Linked DNA regions of Homo sapiens. The protein of the gene in region 1 purifies or fractionates together with the protein of each later gene. This does not show direct contact. Each region holds a gene or a part of one and is shown in the gene's direction. Other genes may lie near its edges.

Region 1 (3,500 bases):
CACCTGTATTAAAATTAGGCATAAATGTAAAACTCTTGACATAACATTGTTGTATATACATTTCTGTGTGTGTGCTTAAATCTATGCATGTGTGTTTATAAATACGTACATATTTCATATAAATCATAGCTGGCTTGATTTTTAAAAAATATATTTAAGGTTTTAAGGCAGATTGCCCTATTAGATCTATAATTCATCATCTAACACAGTACAGCTACTGCCTTTCTTTAAAAAGTTAAAATTGCTGAATCTCAAAGCAAAGCTACTGACAAGTTTACATTTGTTCCTTAATTTCTGATTATTATTATTATTATTATTAGTTTTTGGCAAGAAAAAATGTAAAACACTTTCCAAAGTATGCAGCTTTAATTTTTACCATAATAATTAACTTTCTTCTCTGAATTACTGATTATAATAGGACCACACTGTATAGCATTTGACCTTGTGTGTGGTAACTTTTACTTCCTGACTATATTATAATTAAAGGTAGGAGAGATGATTTATGTTATTTGTGTCTCTTTGAGATGCTTTACTTGGATTTGAGAACATATCACAGATGTTGATGTTTAATTAAAACAGCTTAAATTTTTTTGTAGCCATGAGCTTTATTTCAATTGAAAGCCAAAGTTGTTTAGCTTGAACTAGCCTAAAGGGTTTAGAGAAATGGAGAGCATGATGGAGGAATTTCTAGTGGGACGTAAGAGTGCTTGTGTTTTGCTGAGAGGGCAGTTAGTTAATAAGCAGCTTGGTTTATGAGGAACAGATTTGACAAGCTTGGATGGAAAAATTAGGAGTGGAGGACCTCAAATGCCAGGCTCAAAAATTTAGAGACAGTGTTGAAAATATTACGATAGTAGAGCTTTAGGAGGATTAGTCTGGCTGGCAGTGTCCTGGATAGATCAGGGCTGGAGGAGGGAGGAAAACCAGGTAGTAGATCTTACAATACAGTTGCTCTCAGTCATGTCTCCCACTTACCCTGACCACAACAGATGTGAGGATGAGTATACCTGCTCATTGGAGAGTCATTCCTATTAGTCACACTGCACTCTCTGTAGCAGAGATTCTCATCACAAGTGGAAACAGTGGGAAGAGGGTGTCATAAGATTTGAAAAAGACCACAAATTATTCTAATACTCCCTCCCTGTCTTAACCAGGAAAAATTATTGAAATTGTTAAGGTTTAAGGCTACAAAAGCCTGAAATAATTTGAAATTGCTAGGAGTAGCAATTGAAAGCAAACTATTGAGGAACAAAAGAAAATCAGCTGTACTTTGCAATTGACTGAGTGTGGTGGCTTTGACATGCCAAGCCTGTGTGACTTGGTCTGAACTCTAGTACAGTGACTGGCATGGAGAAGGGTGTTCAGTGGGAATTTGTGAAATTTGATCATGGCACCAGAGATGTTAGCTGCTGATGTGAGTGGTTGTGCTACTAGGTGGCAGGCACTTAAAAAGAATAATTTTGTCTTTCTCCAGGAGCTTGTGGAAACACTTCCGTGCTGTAAGCCTTTGTTTATTTTTATTGGTATTCCCTGCTTATATGGCTTATATGATTTGCCAGTTTTTCCACATGGATTTTTGGCTTCTTATCATTATTTCCAGCAGCATTCTTACCTCTCTTCAGGTAAGCCTATGATTAATTAACTCTATATAATAACCAATTTTGTTATTTTTCCTCCCAGAGGAGGAATTAAATTTTTTCAAGATGAATGATTATAAGTGGACTATTCAGGTGATAACTTCTCTCTCTCTTTACTAGAACACATTACATTTATTTGAGCACAGGAGTTAGATGGCAGGTTATGAAAATATTACATAAACCGGCCGGGCGCGGTGGCTCACGCCTGTAATCCCAGCACTTTGGGAGGCCGAGGCGGGTGGATCATGAGGTCAGGAGATCGAGACCATCCTGGCTAACAAGGTGAAACCCCGTCTCTACTAAAAATACAAAAAATTAGCCGGGCGCGGTGGCGGGCGCCTGTAGTCCCAGCTACTCGGGAGGCTGAGGCAGGAGAATGGCGTAAACCCGGGAAGCGGAGCTTGCAGTGAGCCGAGATTGCGCCACTGCAGTCCGCAGTCCGGCCTGGGCGACAGAGCGAGACTCCGTCTCAAAAAAAAAAAAAAAAAAAAGAAAATATTACATAAACCTATTGATGTCACTGTATTTTTTATGAAGGTAATTAAGCCTTTCAGTTTCTCTTTTTCAAAATGGTATGATACAGAGGTGTCATATAAATCTTAAATTGACAAGTAACTAAAATATTAAAAGTTTTTAGAGCTTGTGTTAGAGCTTATTTGGAGTGTGTTTTTTAAATTCCACTCAAAAATACCAATAGTTCCACGATGTATATAAATATATATGTATATGATGTGTGTGTATTGCACACATACAGACATGATACATGTTTCACAGACATGCACACACAAAATATTGCCCTAGAAATGATAAGCTTATTGTAACTTAAAGGAAGATCTTTGCTACCTAGGTAAAGGAAAACATAACACAGTGAAGAGTTATTCATTATTTTTTTGCAGAAGTAAAACTTCTTTGCGAGTTGTAGAACAGGAATGACTATGGTATGAGGAAAATTAAGATGGAGTTGATGAGGTTTGGTGACCTAAGGAATAAGGGAAAAAGATGAATCAAAAAATTGATTACTCATCAGAATCATTTTAGGAAAGTCACGTCTGACGGTGTGGCTTTTTGTTTTCTATGCCTGGATTACTAAGATCACCCACATTTTAGTCATCAGTGTCTTCTCTTTAGAGTTGATTTTTTATTTATTAAAACTTTTTTTTCCCCTGGATACTCTTCTGTATATTTGAAATATTGCACCCTAAAAACATCAGGAATGTGTTATTGTTTAAAGCCTATGAAAAAAGTATCTTAGTGATCATATTTCAAGATACGTACATTTTTTTTTTTTTTTCAGGTTCTGGGAACACTTTTTATTTATGTCTTATTTATGGTTGAGGAATTCAGAAAAGAGCCAGTGGAAAACATGGATGATGTCATCTACTATGTGAATGGCACTTACCGCCTGCTGGAGTTTCTTGTGGCCCTCTGTGTGGTGGCCTATGGCGTCTCAGAGACCATCTTTGGAGAATGGACAGTGATGGGCTCAATGATCATCTTCATTCATTCCTACTATAACGTGTGGCTTCGGGCCCAGCTGGGGTGGAAGAGCTTTCTTCTCCGCAGGGATGCTGTGAATAAGATTAAATCGTTACCCATTGCTACGAAAGAGCAGCTTGAGAAACACAATGATATTTGTGCCATCTGTTATCAGGTAACTCCTTCAATAAGAATGTGTTTGGGTAAGTCATACAGTGTATCCCTTGGGACTGTAACCATATTAACCAAATTCAACTTAAATTTCTAGGCAAAATTATCTTCTGGATTAAAAAAAATGGACCTCAGAAATTATATTAAAGACCTGATAAAATATTTCCATTTTATTTCTAAATTAAGTTTTAAATTTAGTCCCTTGGGTTCTAATGT
Region 2 (3,500 bases), on another chromosome or scaffold:
AGCCTCTTTTTGTCCAGTGATCTTGAGGGCCTTGATTTGTATGTCAGTCTTCAACAAATATTTACTGAGTTCTCATTTAATTTGCCAGACATGCTGTAGGCCCAGGGAATGTAACAGTGAATGTGGCAAAAATGTCTGAAGTCGTAGAGTGCACATTGTAGTTGGGGGAGAGAGGAACTAAATGACAAGCAACAGACAAAAATATATATTGTAATTTCAAGTGCTAAAAAGAAAAATAAAGCAATATGAAGGGAAAGAAGGGTGGTTCTACTATTTCAGGTAGGGTGGTTGGGAAAACACTATCTGATGGGGCTTCATTTGGGCTGAGACTCAAATGAAGTGGGGAGAGAGGCATGGGATGTTTGGGAGAAGAGATTCAGGTTGAGTGGTAGTCTGTTCTCACACTCCTAATAAAGACATACCAGAGACTGAGTAATTTATAAAGGAAAGAGGTTTAATTGAATCACAGTTCAGCATGGCTGGGGATGACTCACAATCATGGCAGAAGGCAAAGGAGGAGCAAAGGCATGTCATACATGGTGGCAGGCGCATGTTCAGGGGAACTGCCCTTTATAAAACCATCAAATCTCATGAGACTTCTTCACTATCACGAGAACAGCACAGGAAAACCCACCCCCGTGATTCAGTTACCTCCCACCGGGTCCCTCCCACGACATGCAGGGATTATGGGAGCCGCAATTCAAGATGAGATTTGGGTGGGGACACAGACAAACCATACCAAATGGGAAGCCCCCAACGTGGGGCCACTGCTGTGTCCAAGCAATAGCAAAGAGGCCAGTGTGGCCTGAGTGCAGGGTGTCATGGGGAGAGCTAACCACAGTGCTGGAGAGAAAAGCGGGTCTTGATGGTGCAGGCTTTGTGACCTTTGAGTTTTAGTCCAAGTGTCATAGGAAGCCACTGGAAGTTGTGGGCAGGGGAGTGACTTGTTGGGATTTGTGTCTCAAGCAGATCTTTCTGGCGGCCCTAAGGAGGATTGATTGTGGGGCACAAGAGTGGAGGCAAGGAGTCCCATGAAAGCTACTGCGGTGGTTCAGGACGAGAGGATGGATCAGGATGATAGTCCTGGTGAGATGCAGTTGGGTTCTGAGTATAGAGATTATGAGATTTGGATATAGAGGATGAGAGAAAAAGAATAAGATGATTCCATTGTTTTTGGCCTGAACAACTGGATGAACAAAAAGGTCGTTTACTGAGATGGTGATGTATTTTATCAAATGTACCATGGGCTATTTTTTTTTAATTTCTGTTTTTGTCGAGGTGTTGACTTGGAATAGTCTTGGCAGACTTTTCATTTAAATACACCAAAAAGGAGATGTTTTTATTTTGGGATGATTCATGACATCTGTTTGAAGCGAAGCTTTAGATGTGCTGTGTACTTTGTACTGTTACTTTTAGATCAGTCCCACAACGTTTATACTATGTGATGGAGATTAAGATATGGGAGAAACAAGATTGAAATATATTTCACTTTATTTTTAGAAATGTTTTGAATTGGCTGGTTAAAGCCCAAATATTTTTTGATGCTTCCTGGTTGTCATATTTAAAAAACTTTTTAAATTATAAAATAAACTCATGTACGTGGTTAAAACATATATCCATATTATACAAGGGTATACAATGAAGAGTAAAAGTCTTCTCCTAACTTCAGCCCTATTTCTAAGAAGGTACCACTGTCAACAGTTTCTGTGTATGCTTTGAGAAGAATTCCATTCATGTGCAAGCATTTGGCCTGATACATTTTAAAGTCATAGCTTTAAGCTAGCAGCACCACGTGTTAGGTTTCAGATTTAGTAGACTTTGTAGTCACCTTGGTAGCCCTCAAGTTAAGCGACCTGGAGTCCACTTTCTATCAACTAAGGATCTCCCTCTCCAAACCATCCCACACTGAACCACTGTGTTCATCATATAACACCCCTTCTCAAAAGCCACCAGTGGTTCTTCTCTGGGTAGAGGTAGAAATCCAAACTCATAAAGTTGGCTTTTAAGGAGCCATTCTATTCTGGCACCAGTCTCTTTTTTTCTACTCTTTTACCACTTTCCATCACAAACCCTCTACTTAAACTAAGTTTGTCCACTTCTGCTTACTGAGTCCTGACCATTTCTCCCAGATTTGGAGTGTTTTCCATCAGAACTTGGGTTCGAGGCTGTGTCTTCGTCCTGGAACACTCCACTCCACAGTAATCTCTCCCTTCTTCAAACTTGCTAAATTAGGGCTAGATACATGCACCCTATTTGAACATAATCACAAATTCTTTTATTAACTTTCTTTGTATATGTGTATTATTTGCTCAAATATATGTGACATAAATTTTACCATTTTAACCATTTTTAAGTGTACATACAGTTCAGTGGCATAAGCACATTCACATTGCTGTGCAGCCATCACCATCATCCCTCCCCATCATCATGAAAAAGATGGACGTTTTTCATCTTCCAAAACACAAGCACTGTGTCCACTAAACACTAACTCTCCATTCCCTCTCCCTCCATCTGTCTATGGACACTTGGGTTGCTTCTACTCTTGCCTATTGTGAATAATGCTGCTGTGAACATGGGTGGGCAGATATCTCCTTGAGACCTTGCTTTCACTTCTTTTGGACATATACCTAGATGTGAAATTGCTGGATCACATAGTAATTCTATTTATAATCTTTTAAGGAACCCGTCCATGCAATTTTAATATTTCCCCTTGGTATTTAACATCTCCAAAGGGAAGGGCAAAAATTTATTATCCTCATTTTGGGGGCCAAACTGAACTTGAGAAGTGTTTGTTTCAGAACACTGTCTTTGGGTGATAGTTCGTCATCAAAGTTCTTGAATTTGTTCATTTATTAGTGTGCCTGTTTTTAGATTGTAGACTTTTAGAGGACAGGCAGGTGATGTTTAATTTGCTTTGTAGAGCATGTAGCCCAAGCTCAGGTGGGGAAGGGTGTAAATATTATGCGATGTTTTATTTCAGCTAAAAAATCTCCTTGAGCTGGATGACAAGAGTCTGGGTTGCTTCCAGCTCCTTTCCTCTTGCTGTTTGCCCTTGGGTGAAGAACTTCCTCTTTCTCTGACTTTTTTTTTTTCAGGGCTTTTTGTGTGTGTGATTGTGATGGTGCCTTAACATTTATTATTATCCTTAAAATTTTCCTTGTGGATTCCTCTGTAAAACTTACATGTTGCCTTCTCTTTGTAACCTTGCCTGACAGCCCCTCTTCCTTACCAGGTCCTGGGGTAGCGCTGATTGCTTCCTCCTTTGTATTTTTACAGTACCCTTTTCACTCCTTTCTTACAGGTGGATCATCTTGTTTTGTAATTGTCAACTTGCCTTCTACACTGTTAGTTCAAGCTTCTTGCAATGGGGAACTGAGTCTCATGCTTAAAAACAAAACAAAACAAAACCTCTGCACCTAGAGCCATGTTTTATACATGGAGGGGAGTGGCTCAGAAATATTTGTTGATTAAAAAATTAGGCTGGAAACATCAGCTCATGC
Region 3 (3,500 bases), on another chromosome or scaffold:
TCCCAACACACTGGAAGCTGAGGCAGGAGGATTGCTTGAGGCCAGGAGTTCAGGACCAGCCTGAGCAACACAGACCTCGTCTCTACACACACGCATGTGCACACAACAGACACAGTGGTGCATACCTGTAGTGCACGCATGCACACACACGTGCGCACAGTGGTGTACACCTGTAGCCCCAGCTATTCAGGAGGCTTAGGTGGAGGATTGCTTGAGGCCAGGAGGTTGAGGCTGCAGTGAGCCATGATCGCACCACTGTACTCCAGGAGCCTGGGTGACAGAGCAAGACCCTGGGGTCTCAAAGAAAAACGCTGTCTCAAACTAAAAAAAAAAAAAGGTCCCGGGGCTTGTGGGTAGCAGTAATGAAAGGTTGAGGAACACGAGTTTAGGATAGTTAAAGAAGGGTTTTAAATAGGAACTATGAAGGTTAGTCATTGAAGGATAGATGGTAAGTTTTAGGTAAACAAAGATGGAGAGGTTATTTTATTCAAGATGGTTTTCTTGGAGATTATGTGTTTTTATAAAATCAGACTGGGTGTATAACATGTCTCACATGCCGCATCATAGCCTCTAGTTAGTGTCTTATAAACTGAAGAATAGGAAAATTAAAATCTCAGAATTTCCTTTTAAACAAGATCAAATTTAAAGTGTTGTAGTAGATTACCCATTGCCTCTGTGTTCATTCTTACCAAGTAGTTTTTTGATTAGAGGTAGAGGATTTATTCATTTCTTTGTGCAGTCATGTTAGCAGTACTGTTTATCTAAACAGACTCTTGGTTACATACGGAATTATGGTTCTCTTGTGCTGTCTTATTCATTGAGTTAAAGAATTATAGAATTTTTTTAGAGATGTAGAAGACTGTAGAGATTGTTTAAACTCCTCCATTGATACATAGGGAGAAAATGGACCTGCAGTGAAGATCCATTGATGTTAGTGGTGGAGCTGGCCTCACCACTTTGGTCTCCTGACTTGCAGTCTACTGCCCTTCTTCTCACAATATCATTTTATCTAAACCAGTATGAACCTTGGTCTGGAGGCAGAAATTTTAATTTTAGTAATTTATCTCTTTAGACCATACCAGATTGTCACTTCTTTTTCCATTTCTCTAGACAAATCAGTCATTTTCTCCAGAATGTGGAAAGGCAGTGGGTTTTGGAGTTTGACTTTTCCACTTCAGCTTTAACCTTGGACAACTTACTTAACTTCTTTGCCTAATGCTCTTATATGTTAAATGGGAATGAGAATACTTACTTAATAAGGTGGTTGTTAGGATTAAGTTAGATGACCTATATATAAAGCCTTTTCCTCTGTGTTGGATATATTTAAAAAATTTATTAAATGTTTTTCTCCCCTTTCTTTCTCTGCCACTAGAGTACTTACCACATTGTGTATCACAGTTAGTTATTTTATGTGTCCCAGGTGCGAGTCTTGGAGGTTTTCCCCTTAGTAATTTCTCAACTTTATGTAATATTATTATGGGGTCTATGACATAATTTTTAAAAAACAAACCAGTAAAGCCAGGAATTTGCTACTGAAACAGAGATGCTGCTATAGTAGACAGTTAATTCATCTGTCAGAGAAGAATTGAGTACTAGTGTTCATTTTTAATACTAATAATTCTATAATAAACTGACTTACTATATTGTTGATTCTTGTCTAAGGCCTTGTTTTGACCTTAAGAATTTCATTATAATTCCACAAGGGAAATGTATTGATTGTGTCATTTGGCTCCCAGTCTCTGTCCTTGACTGTTTCTGTGATTGCCTTGCAGAGCTCTGAGGAACATGAATACAGTGATGAAGCTCCTCAGGAAGATGAGGGCTTTATGGGCATGTCCCCTCTCTTACAAGCCCATCATGCTATGGAAAAAATGGAAGAATTTGTTTGTAAGGTAAGAGTGCAGTTTCTTGTCATTGTCATGCTATATATTTAGCCCTTCCAAAACAGAAACCTTTAAAGAGAGTGGTAGTACTATAGCCTTTGGTTTGCTTTGGGGAAGATCTGTGGCAAGATGGGGACAGAAGTGGTCTTGGGACTCTAATCCTGTTGAAGACAGAATACATTTGTTGGCTTGTAGTAGCCATGATAAAGCTCTGATAAAACTAGGATATCCAGCTGGGAAACAAACATTTCCTAATGTAGGTTAACAGAGTAAATGTCTTATTGGTGGTTTAGACAAACAGAATGAAACATAGTCAGAAGTGGTTGACGCCTGGAGATATGAAAATGCCCTCCGCAGGTCCCTTAAATCTGTTCTGCTGAGTGACTGCAATGGCAAATGTACTGTTCTTTCTAGGGATTCTGTGAGTAATCAGGCTACTCTTGAGAGAGATTTTCCAGTTTCCATGTACATCTGGTATTTTCAGTTCAGCTGGTATACATTCTGTCTCTTAAGGTTTTTCTTCCAGTCCATTGTCTTGATTCCCTAGGACCTATTATGGGATTCTTTTTTTTTTTTTTTTTTTCTAAAATAGTAATTAGAATTGAGTTTGCCTGCTTAGAGAAAATAGACACACTGGTAAACTTGTAGGTACTTGATCAATCAGATCAATAAGGGCCCTGGCAGGTAGAATCTAATTAATGTAAGTCGATCAGTCTGTGTGTATACGTATGTGTATGTAAATTGATTTATTAAACATTTCTGGAGAACTCTTTATTATTTAGAGAGAAATTTTTGTGACACTTAGCTTTTCATGGCTTTTATGAAACCAAAACTTTTTATGTACATGGTCTTAGATCCAGGAGACTAAATATAGGTTTTCTTACATTCACAATAATGCTGGAAATAATTGGGATCAGTGGACTTAGAATGCTATTACTTTGGACCAGGGTATGAAAAGAGAACATTGTGATCTGAACATAGACATCCTTTCCAAGACTAAGGGTCCAGTGGGTTTTCAGGGGGAGTTTAAACATTTATGGGTCTGTAATAGAAAATTTTAGCCAGTTTGAAAATGAGTGAAGAAACAACTGAACAGAACAATAGATTCATTCTAGTGATCACTGTCTCAGGAGAATTAGCACAAAGGGATACAAAAGATTATTTTGTTTTTAAAATGCAAATTTGGTGTGAAGAAATCTCTCAAAGTTGGCAAATTTAGTATCTGGGCCATTAGGGGATTTTAATATTTAGAGATCAGCGGGGTACGGTAGCTGACTTAACTGCCTTTTTGTCCTCTCCCTTTCTGAACAGAGAACAAAGAATAAAACAAATAAAACTCTAAATTTAACAGCAAATCAGAGAATAAATAGGGCAGGACATTTGTTTGCTACAAACTATGATCTTCTGAAGGAAAAGGAGTGTTGTAAATATCCCTTAGCAGTTTGTTGATGACAGCAGAATGAAGAGGCATCCTGTTACACAGTGTTGTCTGGTGTGGCTCAACCCTGCCATGGCAGTGCAACTGACCACACTTGAAAACCAGCCGTGTCTAGTGGCACAGGGATTCTATTTCTTGGACTGGAAGCAAGTAAACAGAGACAGTTTAATATGAAATGT
Region 4 (3,500 bases), on another chromosome or scaffold:
GTTGGCACTTATTGTTTCCAAGCCTCCTAGAAGCAGATCACATAATCTCACTCTACCACCATATCCCCACTTAATTGTCCCTACATTAGTTTCTTTCCTCATTTGCCCATTCCTGTCTTCAAATGGTAAGTGAGGTAAAACTTTGGGGAAGAGAGATGATACATATACAAGTCTGGTATAATTGCCTTCTTTTTCTTTTTTTCTTTTCTTTTTTTTTCTTTTTTTTCGAGGCAGATTTTGCTCTTGTTGCCCAGGCTGGAGTGCAGTGGTGCAATCTCAGCTCACTGCAACCTCCACCTCCCGGGGTCAAACCATTCTCCTGCCTAAGCCTCCAGAGTAACTGGGATTACAGGCACCTGCCACCATACCCGGATAATTTTTGTATTTTTAGTAGAGACGGGGTTTCACCATGTTGGCCAAGCTGGTCTCGAACTCCTGACCTCAGGTGATCCACCTGCCTTGGCCTCCCTAAGTGCTGGGGTTATAGGAGTGAGCTACCACGCCTGGCCTAATGGCTTTTTTTTTTAAGACAGAGTCTCACTCTCTCGCCAGGCTGGAATGCAGTGGCGCAATCTGCAACCTCCACCTTCCGGATTCAAGAGATTCTCCTGCCTCAGCCTCCTGAGTAGCCTGGCTTTTGCCTTCTTTTTGAAAGTACGTATGAGGCCGGGTGCGGTGGCTCACGCCTGTAATCCCAGCACCTTGGGAGGCCAAGGTGGGCAGATCACCTGAGTTCAGAAGTTCAAGACCAGCCTGGCCAACGTGTTGAAACCACATCTCTTCTAAGAGTACAAAAATTAGCCAGGCATGGTGGCGCATGCCTATAATCCCAGCTACTCGGGAGGCTAAGGCAGGAGAATCACTTGAACCCAGGAGGTGGAGGTTGCAGTGAACGGAGATTGCGCCACTGTACTCCAGCCTGGGTGAGAGAGTGAGACGCCACCTCAAAAAAAAAAAAAAAAAGTACATATGAGAGAAGCAATGCTGGGAGGAATGGATAATGGAAGAGTTGGAACCATCAGATTCTTCTTTTCTTCTCCCCAAGTGGGAATGTTGAGTGGGCAGAGCAGTGGCAGGTTGCTAAAAGGCTGTTTGTGGGAAGGTTTAAGAGCCCTCTGTACAATCATGTGTCCGTTTTTTTATCCTTCACTCTTTTCTTTCCCTAGTTATCTTCAGGCAGAGTGAGAAGCTGCAGCAATGTCTGATTTTGTGGAAAGCGAGGCTGAGGAGTCAGAGGAAGAATACAATGATGAAGGCGAGGTGGTACCCCGAGTCACCAAGAAATTTGTGGAAGAGGAGGATGATGGTGAGGAGGCCCCAGCCTCAAGCTTCTCCCCACTATTGCTAAGCTTTGGATAGTTGGATTCTTGCTGATGAAAAGCTCAGGCTCAGCACAGAAGTTATCACACATGAGGTACCAGCTTGAGAACTTTCAGTCATTCTTAGCAGATACTAACTGAGCATCTGTCTGTATGCCAGGCACTAGGCCTGGAACTAGAAATATAAAACAATAAATATCCAGCTATTGTGGAGTTTACTTTAGTTGGGGGGTGGTTGATAATAAATCAGTAGATAAGTCTGTATATAATACTTTCTGCTTTTAGACCTAGCATTGTTGATATTTATTCACCTCGTTTCCTATTTCTCTGGCCAAGCCCAATCTTTAGAATTGTCAACAGAGTAGAACCACGAAATGACTTCAAAGGGGTAAAGGGACGTACAAGTTTTATCAAAGGAATTATGGCAAAAAAAAGGAATATAGCTGCTGAGTTTACAAACTGAGTAAAACAAAGTTATTGGTGGCTATAATAATCTAGTAATGATTTTGAGAAGCCAAAGTGACGGGGAAGATCATCCTGCCCAAAGACAGATGGTGAATGTAGGGGAAGAAAACATTCTTTCCAGATGCTGCTACTCTAAGTCAATGGCTATGTTTTGCATCTTTACATGAGGCAGAAGAGTTAACATGGCACCCAGGTCATTAGGTGCAGAGCAAATGGATAATCACATTAATCAAGTGACCCTGAACCTCTAGCCTGTTTTTCAGTCTCCATGCCTCAAACATGCATGTCTTCCAGATGAGGAGGAGGAGGAGGAGAACCTAGATGATCAGGATGAGCAAGGCAACTTGAAAGGCTTTATCAATGACGATGATGATGAAGATGAAGGGGAGGAGGATGAGGGCAGTGACTCTGGTGATTCAGAAGATGATGTTGGCCACAAGAAGAGAAAACGCAGTGAGTAGTCTGTCGTTGGCTCAAGTGAGGCTTGGGTGGAGGTTGCAGTGGAAAAGGGCAACCCCATCACCATGGGCAACACTTTGTTTCTTCAGCCTCTTTTGATGACCGCCTGGAGGATGATGATTTTGACCTCATTGAGGAGAATTTGGGTGTCAAAGTCAAAAGAGGAGTAAGTGTCATTCTTTGTCTTTTGTCCCTGGGGGTAAAGGAAAAAGCCCTGGAAATTTCAATGTCTGTGGGTGAGGAGGCACACGCAGGACAGTTTGGAGAACATTAGAGCACGGTGTTCGGTATCATTGTACTACGGAGCCTAGATTTGCATCCCAGATCTGGGTGCCTGTTAGAGAAAGTCTTGTCCAAGTTTCAAGGATGGGCTTTGAGGCTACAAGAGCATCACTCGGCATGTTCTTTCCCATCTCTCTTGGTCAGAGTAATTGTGGTGGGAAGAAGGGAGTGAGACTGGAGATTTGGTATCCGTATGCCAGACTCCTCAGATCCTGATAAGGCAGGTTTTCCCACCCCTAGCAAAAGTACCGGCGTGTCAAAAAAATGTCAGATGACGAGGACGATGACGAGGAGGAATATGGCAAGGAGGAACATGAAAAAGAAGCTATTGCGGAAGAAATCTTCCAGGATGGGGAAGGGGAAGAAGGGCAGGAGGCCATGGAGGCCCCCATGGCTCCTCCAGAGGAGGAGGAAGAAGATGATGAGGAGTCAGGTATGTTATATTGGGCAGGGAAGCCAGTGTTTGGATGGGTATTGGGATTTCCTGGCCCATGGGAACAGGATGGAAACCATTCTTTAGCTACATCCCCCAGCATTTGACACAAAGAAGTTCCTTTTCAGGAGCTTCCCTTCTCTGTTGCTCACTGGCCACTCACATAGTAGGAACCAAAGCAATTTAGTCCTGGCTCAGCCCCTGACTCTGAGCCCCAACCCATCCTTTTCCTACCCAGATATTGACGACTTCATTGTGGATGATGATGGACAGCCTCTGAAAAAACCTAAGTGGCGGAAAAAGCTTCCTGGATACACAGACGCGTGAGTGGGGTCTGGTACAAGGTGGGGATAAAGTGATTGAGTGGGCCCAGTCAGGAAGGAGGAGATCAGAGGCCTTTGCCAAAAATGGGGCATTCCCAGCTTGCAGCCATTTTGCTTCCCTGCCTCAAATAACCTCTACCAGGCAGTGATTTCAGACTGCTCCCGGAAGCCCTGGGAGCTGTCTCTGCACTCTAGGACTACTGTGGGATTGGAGTAGAG

What was found. The genes of interacting proteins can lie anywhere in the genome.
Region 2: the proteins of RNF145 (region 1) and SPTB purify together in Homo sapiens (affinity purification with mass spectrometry; one large-scale study listed by BioGRID and IntAct). This does not show direct contact.
Region 3: the proteins of RNF145 (region 1) and ADIPOR2 purify together in Homo sapiens (affinity purification with western blotting; one study listed by BioGRID). This does not show direct contact.
Region 4: the proteins of RNF145 (region 1) and SUPT6H purify together in Homo sapiens (affinity purification with mass spectrometry; one large-scale study listed by BioGRID and IntAct). This does not show direct contact.

Annotation. Positions count from the first base shown.
Region 1 is NC_000005.10:159,161,054-159,164,553, reverse strand, and holds part of RNF145 (RING finger protein 145), read left to right. Parts: intron 1-1,474; coding exon 1,475-1,622; intron 1,623-2,931; coding exon 2,932-3,288; intron 3,289-3,500. UniProt on the Homo sapiens protein: E3 ubiquitin ligase that catalyzes the direct transfer of ubiquitin from E2 ubiquitin-conjugating enzyme to a specific substrate.
Region 2 is NC_000014.9:64,869,908-64,873,407, reverse strand, and holds part of SPTB (spectrin beta chain, erythrocytic), read left to right. Parts: intron 1-729; exon of another isoform or gene 730-1,086; intron 1,087-3,500.
Region 3 is NC_000012.12:1,771,070-1,774,569, forward strand, and holds part of ADIPOR2 (adiponectin receptor protein 2), read left to right. Parts: intron 1-1,772; coding exon 1,773-1,892; intron 1,893-3,500. UniProt on the Homo sapiens protein: Receptor for ADIPOQ, an essential hormone secreted by adipocytes that regulates glucose and lipid metabolism. Required for normal body fat and glucose homeostasis.
Region 4 is NC_000017.11:28,672,205-28,675,704, forward strand, and holds part of SUPT6H (transcription elongation factor SPT6), read left to right. Parts: intron 1-552; exon of another isoform or gene 553-654; intron 655-1,166; 5' UTR 1,167-1,197; coding exon 1,198-1,306; exon of another isoform or gene 1,307-1,414; intron 1,415-2,078; coding exon 2,079-2,237; intron 2,238-2,332; coding exon 2,333-2,409; intron 2,410-2,765; coding exon 2,766-2,958; intron 2,959-3,196; coding exon 3,197-3,281; intron 3,282-3,500.